3 separate regions of the Homo sapiens genome follow, and all the other regions are reported to be linked to region 3. The links are microRNA targets in miRTarBase. Many come from high-throughput screens and were not tested one by one. Region 3 holds a microRNA gene; each other region holds the end of a gene's coding sequence.
Evidence for each region. The annotated mature microRNA hsa-miR-6880-5p reads UGGUGGAGGAAGAGGGCAGCUC and lies in region 3 at 1,217-1,238, shown strand. An mRNA with a match to its seed (bases 2 to 7 or 8) in the 3' UTR can be bound and repressed. Matches are read on the target gene's strand: a 7mer-m8 pairs with bases 2 to 8, a 7mer-A1 pairs with bases 2 to 7 and ends in A, and an 8mer does both.

Region 1 (4,000 bases), not on the chromosome of region 3:
GACCTGCCCTCTATGTTTGCAGTTAGCAGATTAAATGGTCCCCACCCCTGTTAATTCCTGTATTTCTTAATGGCAAGAATTAATGAAACGTATCATTATGATTTCATTATATTTTACCATTCGTATTTATACAATATGTTTAATAGTCATTTATAAATGTTTGTTGACAGCTTGAAACGAAATTCAAAAGTGGTTTAAATGGGAGCATCTTGGCTGAGAGGGAAGAACCCCTCCGATGCCTAATAAAGTTCTCTAGCCCACATCTTCTGGAAGCATTGAAATCCTTAGCACCAGCGGGTGAGTGGTCAGCTTACTCTATAAGCTAGAAAAATTAACAACATGCCTCCATTCCATCCTTATAATCTGCTAATTACTTCTGAGCTCACCCATCACCCTAGTCTGCTAGCCCATCCTGCTCTCTCTTGCATCTTCTGCTTCTGTACTTAATAGGGAGGAGGGGCATCTATGATCCACCCTCTAATCTCAGCCATTTTTAAACTGACTCAAATCCATCCTCCTGTGATGACTTTTAATTTTCTTTTTCCCTTTTTTTTTTTTTTAATTTCAGGTATTGCAGATGCTCCACTTTCTCCACTGCTCACTTGCATACCCAACAAGAGAATGAATTATTTTAAAATTAGAGATAAATAAGACGTGCGTGGTTTCTTAAGCACAGCTCCTCCTTCTTGATATTGCACATGCACTTCAGTTCATGGCTAGCTGTATAGCTTCCGTCTGTAAACTTGTATTTTCAAGAATCCTTGGTATTGAATTTTTAGAAATGCTCACATAATTGTTGGGACTGATTCATTCCTCCACGATATGCCTCCTCTCTCTGATATCCTGCTAACTGTAGCCGTTGTGGCATTTGAGATGACAGGACATATATATATATGGCCCCACACTTGACCTTGAGTGCCTGAATGCTCTGAAATCAAGCATATGGCACAGCGCTCAAGACTTTTGGGTTTGTGTCCTTTTTTCTATGGCTGTCTCTTCTCAATTCTGGAGAGGTCTGGTTCCAGTGGCTGGTTTCCAGGGATTGATTCTTAAGCTCTGGATCACAGAGAGAAGCAACAAGGAACTATACTCAACTCAAAACTTTTTAGGAGAATCATGAAATTGGTCTATTCAAAGGATGGAGTTGAGTCCATTCTGTTATTGTTGCAAGAGGTTGCATATTTGGTGAGTCAGTTATATAAAATAGTGTTCTTATTGTAAATATGATACTTCTCATAATCTATTTTATCATGTGTATAACATTCAAACTGACAAATATATTGACTTATGAATAAAGGTGTCAAAAAACTGGCACATCAGTTAATTTTGATCAAAGTACTTCAGTGATCATCACTAAATACCCTATCTTTTTAAAAATTTTTTCCTTTCTAATTTTTTATTTCTTTATTTATTTATTGAGACAGGGTCTCACTGTGTCACCCAAGCTGGAGTGCAGTGGCATGATCATGGCTCACTGCAGCCTGGACCTCCCAGGCTCAAGTGATCCTTCCACCTCAGCCTCCCGAATAGCTGGGATTACAGACGCGCTCCATCCTGCCCAGCTAATTTTTTTTTTGTTTGTTTTTTGTTTTTTGAGACAAGTCTCCTTCTATCGCCCAGGCTGGAGTGCAATGGCACAATCTTGGCTCCCTGCAACCTCTGCCTCCTGGGTTGAAGAGATTCTCCTGCCTCAGCCTCTGAGTAGCTGGGACTACAGGCCTGCACCACCATGCCCAGCTAATTTTTGTATTTTTAGTAGAGACAGGGTTTCTCCATGTTGCCCAGGCTGATCTCAAACTCCTGGGCTCAAGCAATCTGCCCATTTTAGCCTCCTAAAATGCTGGGATTATAGGAGTGTATTAGTCTATTCTCATGCTGCTAATAAAGATACCTAAGACTGGGTAATTCACAAAGGAAAGAGGCTTAACTGACGCACATTTCCACGTGGCCAGGGAGGCCTCACAATCATGGTGGAAGGCAAATGAGAAGCAAAGTCATGTCTTACATGGCGGCAGGCAAGAGAGCTTGTGCAGGGAAACTCCCATTTATAAAACCACCAGAGCTCATGAAACTTATTCACTACCATGAGAATAGTATGGGGGAAATCGTTCCCATGACTCAAGTATCTCCACCTGGCCCTGCCCTTGTCACATGGGGGTTATTACAATTCAAGGTGACACTTGTGTGGAGACACAGCCAAACCATATCACAGGCATGAGCTACCACGCCCGCCAGCATGTCTTTTTTAAACATTTTAAAATCTATTCTTTATCTTGTTTCAGAGAGGATTTGGAGTTACAGAAACACATTAGACTGGGCATGGTGGCTCACACTTGTAATCCCAGCACTTCAGGAGGTTTCTCCTAGTGTACTCTCACACTTCTGATACCAGATATGTGGGGGAGGGGGTTTCCCCCACACATTAAGCAAGTGTGAAACATGATATAGAAAAATGACTTCACTCTGGGCCGGGTGTAGTGGCTCACGCCTGTAATCCTAGCACTTTGGGAAGCCGAGGTGGGCAGATCACCCGAGGTCAGGAGTTCGAGACCAGCCTAGCCAACATGGCAAAACCTTGTCTCTACTAAAAATAGAAAAATTAGTTGGGGGTAGTGGCAGCCGCCTGTAATCCCAGCTATTCGAGAGGCTGAGGCAGGAGAACTGGTTGAACCGGGGAGGCAGAGGTTGCAGTGAGCCAAGATCATGCCACTGCACTCTAGCCTGGGTGACAGAGTGAAACTCTGCCTCAAAAAATAAAATAAAGGCCAGGCATGGTGGCTCACGCCTATAATCCCAGCACTTTCAGAGGCCAAGGCAGGTGGGTCACAAGGTCAAGAGTTTGAGACTAGCCTTAGCAACATGGTGAAGGTGAACCCCGACTCTACTAAAAATACAAAAATTAGCTGGGCCTGGTGGTGTGCACCTGTAATCCCAGCTACTTAGGAGGCTGAGGCAGGAGAATCGCTTGAACCCGGGAGACATAGGTTGCAGTGAGCCGAGACTGCACCACTGCACTCCAGCCTAGGTGACAGAGTGAGACTCCATCTTAAAAAATAAATAAATAAAATAAAATAAATGACATCACTTTGGTTCAGAGCTCTAAAATGGAGGGAGGAAGCCATTCTAAAAAGGACTCCCTACATGACCTGCAACTTGAAAAAAAATTAAAAGCTCCAAAAAAAAAACAATACAGGAGCTTACCTTGAACCTTTGAATTGGGCCAAATTGCGATGACCACTGCATCCTGGAAAATTTTATTTCACCAGCACTACAACTCCTCAACAGCACCAACCAATAAACTATGGATTTTTGTACTAAGCCAGTTGCCTCTTTCAAAACAACTTGTCAACTTGTCTAATCACCCTCAGCTTTTTTTAAAAACCCCTCCTCTACCCTCTCTCTTCAGAACACAAGTGGCTTCTAGCTGAATCTGTCTCCCAAATTGCAATTCCTAAGACCTCAATAAAAACACCTTGTCTTGCTGCTTTGCAGTGTGGTCTTTTGCCCCTTGGATGACATTAAATGGTGTCAGAATTGAGTGGGACAAAAAAGCAACTCCCTTCTTTGTTCTGGTGCGGCCACGGATTCGAGCACAGTTCCTGCAGGAGGAACCCCTTGTGTTCCACACCTCTCCCATGGCCACGGATTCTGTTTACGAGTTGTCTCATTCCTTAACCCCCTACCTTGGTTGAGGTTCTTTATCCAACGTCCTTGGTTGCCAGCTGTCCAGTAGCTGGGATTACAGGCACGTGCCACCATGCCCAGCTAATTTTTGTATTTTTAGTAGAGACAGGGTTTCACCATGTTGGTCAGACTGGTCTCAAACTCCTGACCTCAAGTGATCCTGCCGCCTCGGCCTCCCAAAGTGCTGGGATTACAGGTGTGAGCCTCAGTGCCCAGCCAAAATTCTATTTAACTTGATTTTTCTCTTCATGGCCAACTCACTGTTTCATTTGTGAAACTACTAGGGAAATTTCAGACTAGGGAATATTGAGGCACA
Region 2 (4,000 bases), not on the chromosome of region 3:
TATTTTTAGTAGAGATGGGGTTTCCCCATGTTGCCCAGGATGGTCTCGAACTCCTGACCTCAGGTGATCAGCCTGCCTCAGCCTCCCAAAGTGCTGGGATTACAGGCGTGAGCCACTGCGCCTGGCCTCTTCTTTTTGTTTTTGTTTTGAGACAGCGTCTTGCTCTGTGGCCCAGGCTGGAGTGCAGTGGTGCAATCACAGCTCACACAGCAGCTCAACCTCCTAGACTCAAGCTATCCTCCCGCCTCAACCTCCGAGTAGCTGGGACTACACGTATGCGCCACTACACCTGGCAAATTTTTGTATATTATGTAGAGACAGCGTTTCACCATGTTGCCTACCCCTGTCTCCACTGCTGCCACCCCTTGCCCAGATGGCACCAGTGCCTGGGTCCTTCCTGGGCTTCCTGTACCCACTCTCCCAGTACCCATTTGTCTGCCCAACAGCCAGAAAAATTGAATTAGAAACATCCAGCCAGTCTTTGTACAAAACCTTCCCATTAGCCAGGCATGGTAGCTCATGCCTGTAATCCCAGCACTTGGGGAGGCTGAGGTGGGCCGATCACTTTAGGTCAGGAGTTTGAGACCAGCCTGGCCAACATGGTGAAACCCCATCTCTACTAAAAATACAAAAATTAGCCAGGTGTTGTGGCGTGTGCCTGTAATCCCAGCTACTCGGGAGGCTGAGGCAAGAGAAACCTGAACCCAGGAGGCAGAGGTTGCAGTGAGCCGAGATCACGCCACTGCACTCCAGCCTGGGTGACAGAGCGAGACTCCCTCTCAAAAAACAAAATAAAATAAAATAAATACAAATTGGCCGGGTGTGGTGGCAGACACCTGTAATCGCAGCTACTCGGGAGGCTGAGGCAGGAGCATCGCTTGAACCCAGGAGGCGGAGTTTGCAGTGAGCCAAGATTGCACCATTGCACTTCAGCCTGGGCGACAGGAACGAAAAAAAAAAAAAAAGAAAAAACAACCTTTCTATCTCCCTCCCTCCCTCCCATCTCATGCAGTAAAACCCCAAGTGCTGGCCCTGCCTGGTCAGCCTCCCCACCAACGGCCTCGACCTCCACTAGTTTCCCCTCACCTGCTCCTCCCTGGCCCCTGGCTTTGCTCAGACCTGTGGGGCTCACTCCACCCTGGGGCCTCTGTTGTCCCCTCTGCCTGGATGTCCTTCCCCCAGATGGGGTGAGGAAGGGAGCTCTGAAAGGCTTCCCTAGCCGCCTTCCTTAAATTGCAACACTGCGTCTTGCCCACAACCCCACACTACTTCCTGCCCCGCTTCCCTGTTTTGTTTCTCTCTGCCAGACTTACCACCAGTGAACATGCCATGTCTTCTTATCTGTTTTCTTGTTGTTGTTGTTGTTTTGACAGGGTCTCACTCTGTCATCCTGGCTGTACAGTGGTACAATCATAGCTCACTGTAGCCTTGAACTCCTGGGCTCAAGCGATCCTCCTGCCTCAGCCTCCCAAGTAGCTGGGACTACAGGTACACACCACTATGCCCAGCTAATTTTTAAATTTTTTTTTTGAGATGGGGTCTTGCTCTGTTGCCCAGGCTTGAGTGCAGTGGCACGACCACAGCTCACTGCAGCAACCATGGCTCATTGCAACCTTGACCTCCCAGGCTCAAGTGATCTTCCCACCTCAGCCTCCCAAGTCAGTGGGACTCTAGGGCATCCACCACCATGCCTGGCTAATTTTAAATGTTTTTATAGAGGCTGGACATGGTGGCGTGTGCCTGTAATCCCAGCTACTTGGAAGGCTGAGGCACGAGAATCGCTTGAACCCAGGAGGTGGAGGTTGCAGTGAGCCGAGATGGCGCCACTGCACTCCAGCCTGAGTGACAGTGATACTCTGTCTCAAAAAAAAAAAAAAAAAGTTTTTGTAGAGAGAGAGGTCTTGCTATGTTGCCCAGGCTGGCCTCAAACTCAGAGGCTCAAAGGATCCTCCCGCCTCAGCCTCCCGAAGTGCTGGGATTTATAGGCATGACCGCTGTGTCCAGCCCTATCTGTTTTCTCTCTCCTACCAGAATGCAAGTTCTAAGGGGTCAGGGGTTTGCTGTTCTTTATGTTGGTGTTCCCAGCACCTAGAGCAGGACTTGCCCGTAGCAGGGGCCCAGTGGATACTGGTTGAATGAATGACGTGGGGCTCTGCACATTTGGCTCAAACTCCTGCACCTGCCTCTGGGGCTGACTCTTGACCACCCAGGTTCACTGTGGTTTCCACCCTCCAGCCTGCTCGCTGAGATGACGGCCTGGGTCTCCCAGATGGGGACTTTGGGCAGCCTTCAAGGCCCTCTGGGGGTCCATCGTGCTTCCCAAGCAGTAGACCCAGCCTAGGCTTTGATGTCTGATGTCTGACCACTGGGGATTCCATCTCCTCCTCCCCTTACTTCAAGATGTGGCCTTGGGCAGGTGGCTTAACTGCTCTGTGGCTTTGGGTGCTAAGAGATGGTGCACGTGTGAGCGCTTAGCGCCGCACCATCTCACTGGCCTGCGGTGGCTCCTCAGCGCGTCTCAGCCACTGTTACATTTCCCAACGTCCCTGCCTCCTGTCTGTTTCCAGCATTGACCGAGTGCCTGCTGGGCTGAGGCTTTGTGTGCAATGTCTGTTTTTTTATTTATTTATTGAGACGGAGTCTCGCTCTGTCACCCAGGGTTGAGTGCATGTGATCTTAACTCACCGCAACCTCCGCCTTCAGGGTTCAAATGATTCTCCTGCCTCAGCCTCCCAACTAACTGGGACTACAGGCACCCACCACCATGCCTGGCTAATTTTTTGTGTTTTTAGTAGAGATGAAGTTTCACCATGTTGGCCAGGCTGGTCTCGAACTCGTGACCTCAGGTGATCTGCCTGCCTCGGCCTCCCAAAGTGCCGGGATTACAGGCGTGAGCCACCGTGCCCGGCCGTGTGTGCGATGTCTTCTCTGAGAGGTGGGCACCAAGTGAGGAACTAAGTTCTGGGAGGTTGTCACTTGGTCCAAGGTCGCAGCCAGGAGGATGCAGTGGAGTTGGGAGACCCACCCGGTGCCCACTTCTTTGCCCCTGAAGTCACCAGAATTCCCTGCCTGACGCCCCTGGCCAGAACAGAGGAACAGAGTCGCCAAGCTGCCCTCTTGGAGCACCCATGGGTGCACCCTGTAGCCCCCACCATGGCCCCTCCACCCACACTCTCGGCTGTTCCCTTGGATTGGGGGTCCTGCAGCTTGGCAAGACCTCCAATCCTTGGCCCACGGCAGCTGGAGAGCAGGGGCTGTACCTTTCTTCTTGGTCTGCCCTAGGCTTCTGTGGCTGCCACCTCCCCATTCACGTAATCCGGTTCCCCGTCCTCCTCGTCTGGGCTTCCCACCGGGCCAGGGGATGCTTCTCTCTGGAGTTGCCCTGTGGACCAGCGGGCAGACAGGTCATCGAGTGGTTCACATGGAGACACCCATGACTGCTCCCCCAGACTCAGACCCCCAGACTCCACAAAACAGCCCGCGGGAAATGCCACGCCCGACAGGTCCTGGCGGTGTGTGTCTGTCCTGTCTCTGGGATTTGCCGGAGATCGTCCTGCTGTGAGAGCAGGTGAATGCGTTACTCCATGCATGCAGCTGGATGGGGCGGCCTGCCCGGGAGGACCTGACCCCACCCTGGAGGCTGGGCGGCTGCCAAGGGCCGTCCTGTGTGGTTCAAGGTCTCTGCAGCTGCTCCTGCACCCAGGCATCACTGCGGGGTTAGCTGGACTGGCTGGAGGGAAGCCCACTTTCAGCCTGCCCTTCCAGGCCAGTCCCTCAAGCCTGCCCTAAGTGGACCACCCTGCCTCTTCTCCCGGCCACCTACCCATGACCTTCCTGGACTCGCGCCACTGATGGATGGATGCTGAGTTCTGATAATCCTCAGATTCCTCATCTTCTTCCGGGGAGGCAGAGGGACAGAGACCAGAAGTGGGGCCAGTCTTCAGGGCCAGTGACAGGCTGAGGTCCCCTCTGCAGAGGCCACCTATGCCCTCCTGCTGGG
Region 3 (4,000 bases):
TTACTGCAACCTCCACCTCCTGGGTTCAAGTGATTCTCCTGCCTCAGCCTCCCAAGTAGCTGCAGTTACAGGCACGTGCAACCACACCCGGCTAATTTTTATATTTTTAGTAGAAATGCGGTTTCACCACGTTGGCCAGGCTGGTCTCAAACTTCTGACCTCAAGTGATCTGCCTGCCTCAGCCTCCCAAAGTGCCGGGATTACAGGCGTGCGCCACCGCACTCAGCCTCCAGGACCTATTTAGAGGCAACTTACTCCTCCAAAATGAATTTTCATTCAAAAAAGTACTTGTGCCCCAACTTGCCGCTTGGATGCCTGAAGTCATACCTCCCCTAATCATTATTTCAATTATGAAAAATGGCATCGTTTCCCAAAAGCAGTGGCGACTTTGTCACCCCTGACTCAGACCCAGCAGGTGCATGAAGCACTAATCCCTGGCTGTGGGGAGCAGGGTTCCGCACACAGGCTCTGTGGGATATGCCCGTGACAGCCGATTCAAAAATATAATGGAGAAAACGAGTGCCTGCCCACTGCCCGCTCATGAATGAGGCTCTGGGAGGTAGAGTTAGCGAGAGATGGGGGTGCCCCCATGGAAACGCAGGGCTCCGGGAAGGCCACGTGGGTGGAGCAGCCGGCTCCTGTTCCAGCCCCAGCCCTGTGCAGGGGCAGCTGTGCCCCAGCTTCTCACTCACAGAGCTGGGAACAGCAGCTTTCTCTGTTCTCAACGCCCACCCTGGCCGCCCCCTGGCATCCTTCCCCTTGCTCTCTCACTCCTCACGTGGCTTTTTTAGCTCTTCGGGTATCCTGAGCAGGCCCAGCTCCCTCATGTGCCCCCTCCCTGAAGACCTCCTAGCCCTGCCTCAGCTTCCTTGCCGTTCTCTCCTGGTACCTCATTGACTACCTCCACACAGTTACCAGGCTCTGTAGAGCTTGGGATATCTGTTAATGTGATCGTAGTCTGTTTTCTGAATTAGATGGTAAGATGCTTGCATCCGTTTTATGACCGCTGTATTCACAGTGTCTAGAACAGTGCCTGGCACCTAGTAGCTGCTTAATCAGAAGTTTTGGAATGATGCAAGGAATGAATGAACGAATGAGTGGGATGGGTCAAACCATGACGCACAGAGTCTGGCAGGTTACAGTCAGGAGGGCAGTTTCACTCTGGGAGCAGCAGGGGATGTGGATTTATCCCAGGGCAATGGGGACTCATCGAGGGTGGTGGAGGAAGAGGGCAGCTCCCATGACTGCCTGACCGCCTTCTCTCCTCCCCCAGGTCCACCTCCACCTCCTCACCCGTTCGCCCGGCTGCCACATTCCCACCTGCCACCCACTGCCCACTGGGCGGCACCCTCGATGGGGTCTACCCTACCCTCATGGAGCCCGTCTTGCTGCCCAAGGAGGCCCCCCGGGTCGCCCGGCCAGAGCGGCCCCGAGCAGACACCGGCCATGCCTTCCTCGCCAAGCCCCCAGCCCGCTCCGGGCTGGAGCCCGCCTCCTCCCCCAGCAAGGGCTCGGAGCCCCGGCCCCTAGTGCCTCCTGTCTCTGGCCACGCCACCATCGCCCGCACCCCTGCGAAGAACCTCGCACCTCACCACGCCAGCCCGGACCCGCCGGCGCCACCTGCCTCGGCCTCGGACCCGCACCGGGAAAAGACTCAAAGTAAACCCTTTTCCATCCAGGAACTGGAACTCCGTTCTCTGGGTAAGACCACCCTGACAGCGGCCACCTTCATAGACGCGATTATCATGCGTCAAATTGCTCACGATAAAGGGGCGCGAGAAGGAGGTGCGCTGGCCAACGGCTCCCCTCGCGATGGTAAGACTTCCGGCCCGCACCCACCCCGTCTCGTGGTCCAAAGATATTTTCAGATCTCTGCTTTTTACTTTGGCCCCCGTTTTTTTTGTTGTTGGTTTTGGTATTTTGTTTTGAAGCCCATCCGTCCTCGCCGGTTTGCACGCGCTGACGACTACTCCGGCCGCGCCTGCCCCTCTGGTTTGGGGGCGCTCATCATTTGCACATCATTTTACCATGGTTTTTTTTTTTTGGATTTTTGCTTTTTTTTCTTTAATGAATGGATCTGTGATTCTGACTTCGACTGCGCCCCCATCTCCCTCTTTGCGCCTGTGTCCAGGGAGCAGGGATGGGGCTGCGGGAGGGCTCGGGCCTACGCCCCCACCTGCCGGCTGCCTGGATGCTGTCGGACTGGGGGAAGTGGAGGCAGGCGGTGCAAGGAGAAGCTGAGGCGGGGCAGGGACCTGCGCTGTCGAGGAGGAGCTGGGTCTGGCTCTTGCATCTTGCCCTGTCCCCAGCCCCTGTACCCCAGAAAAAGGGGAGCCCTCTGCCTCTGGACCCCTGCCTTGGCCCTAGTTCATGGCTCCTCTCTGTTGGACTGGGATGGCCGAGGCTATAGCCCAGGCGGGGCCCCGGGGACCCAGGGTCACTCCCAGCCACACCCCCACTTCTCACTCCGCCCCACACACTCCTTCCCCAGAGACCCATGCTGCCCCCATCTCACGCTGGCCTCGCCCGGCCTCCACCACCTGAACCCATCTCTGTCCCTTCTTGCCTAATCTCTCTCTGTGTCTCCCTCTCTGTCTGTCTCTGTCCCGGGCTCTGCATCTCTCTCCACCTCTCCCTTGGCCTCCCTGTCTCTCCCCAACACCCCTCTCTGCCTTACTGTCTTTGGGAGCCCAAACCCTACCCCTAGCTTGGGTTCCCCTTGACCCCCCCGGGGTCCCAGCCAGCTGGGAGGGCAGCCCTGCCCCTCGGGCTCCGAAACCCTGGGCCCGGTGCCTGACTCTGCACCCCCCGCCTGCCCTAGGTTACCACGGCAGCAGCTACAGCCCCGAAGGGGTGGAGCCCGTCAGCCCTGTGAGCTCACCCAGTCTGACCCACGACAAGGGGCTCCCCAAGCACCTGGAAGAGCTCGACAAGAGCCACCTGGAGGGGGAGCTGCGGCCCAAGCAGCCAGGTACGCCCCACCCAGTACCCAGGCCCCCGAAGCCCTGCACAGTGAGGACCCTCAAGGCCCCATCATGCAGATAGGAAAACAGAGGTGCCTAAAGGCCAAGGAATTGGCTGGATCATGAGGCTCAAAGGCATGGGGCTGGGATTTGGGCCCAGCAGCCCTGGGGCCAGCAGACACCCCCTGACCAGCTCTGCTCTGCCTGCAGGCCCCGTGAAGCTTGGCGGGGAGGCCGCCCACCTCCCACACCTGCGGCCGCTGCCTGAGAGCCAGCCCTCGTCCAGCCCGCTGCTCCAGACCGCCCCAGGGGTCAAAGGTCACCAGCGGGTGGTCACCCTGGCCCAGCACATCAGTGTAACTACGCGTTCTCTGCTGCTGCTTGTCACCTTTGCACCTGGGGGCACCAGGCCTGGAGAGGGGATGGGGAACCCCACAGCCCTTCTGTCCTGGCGGGGTGGCTGGGGGATCCAGGGCATGGCGCTGGGGGGATCCAGGGCGTGGGTGAGGGTGAGATCCCAAAGCCCCGAGCACCGGCACCATCACCGCCCCCTAATCCATGGGAGGAGCCTGTGATGCGAGCCGATGGCATCTTCACGGGCAATGAGGCCTTCCTGGTGGCCCAGGTTTCTCAGTGTCATGGGCTGGTCTCATCAGCCATCTGCCAACTACCAGCTTGGGACCGCTGACCACAGCCCCACTCCCATGCACACTGGGACACGGAGGCCCAGAGGGTGGCGGGCAGGTCCACAGTCACCCAGGAAGCTGGCCCCACCCAGGATTCTGCCCCGAGCTCCGTCTAGCCCCTCCCCACCCCCAGAAGGTTCTGTCAGGAGAGTGCTGCCTGACTCTGGGCCCCCCCACTTGCCTGCAGGAGGTCATCACACAGGACTACACCCGGCACCACCCACAGCAGCTCAGCGCACCCCTGCCCGCCCCCCTCTACTCCTTCCCTGGGGCCAGCTGCCCCGTCCTGGACCTCCGCCGCCCACCCAGTGACCTCTACCTCCCGCCCCCGGACCATGGTGCCCCGGCCCG

Region 1: miRTarBase lists CENPN as a target of hsa-miR-6880-5p. Seed matches in the 3' UTR shown: 7mer-m8 at 2,127-2,133.
Region 2: miRTarBase lists LAT2 as a target of hsa-miR-6880-5p. The part of its 3' UTR that is shown has no 7-base or 8-base seed match.

Annotation. Positions count from the first base shown.
Region 1 is chr16:81,028,001-81,032,000 of GRCh38, forward strand. It overlaps CENPN (centromere protein N), which reads left to right. Exons shown (of 11, transcript NM_001100624.3): 10 at 171-297; 11 at 569-3,485. The coding sequence ends at 651. The region is part of intron 2 of CENPN-AS1 (CENPN antisense RNA 1); the gene reads right to left. Among named protein-coding and RNA genes, the nearest start is that of ATMIN, 5.8 kb to the right of the region's middle.
Region 2 is chr7:74,224,021-74,228,020 of GRCh38, reverse strand. LAT2 (linker for activation of T cells family member 2) reads right to left here. Exons shown (of 14, transcript NM_032464.3): 12 at 3,824-4,000; 13 at 3,261-3,382. The coding sequence ends at 3,279. Among named protein-coding and RNA genes, the nearest start is that of LAT2, 16 kb to the right of the region's middle.
Region 3 is chr12:124,334,454-124,338,453 of GRCh38, reverse strand. MIR6880 (microRNA 6880) reads left to right here and starts at 1,212; the gene lies at 1,212-1,273. It overlaps NCOR2 (nuclear receptor corepressor 2), which reads left to right. Exons shown (of 49, transcript NM_006312.6): 40 at 1,274-1,701; 41 at 2,822-2,971; 42 at 3,174-3,319; 43 at 3,837-4,000. RefSeq lists a silencer at 1,820-2,000.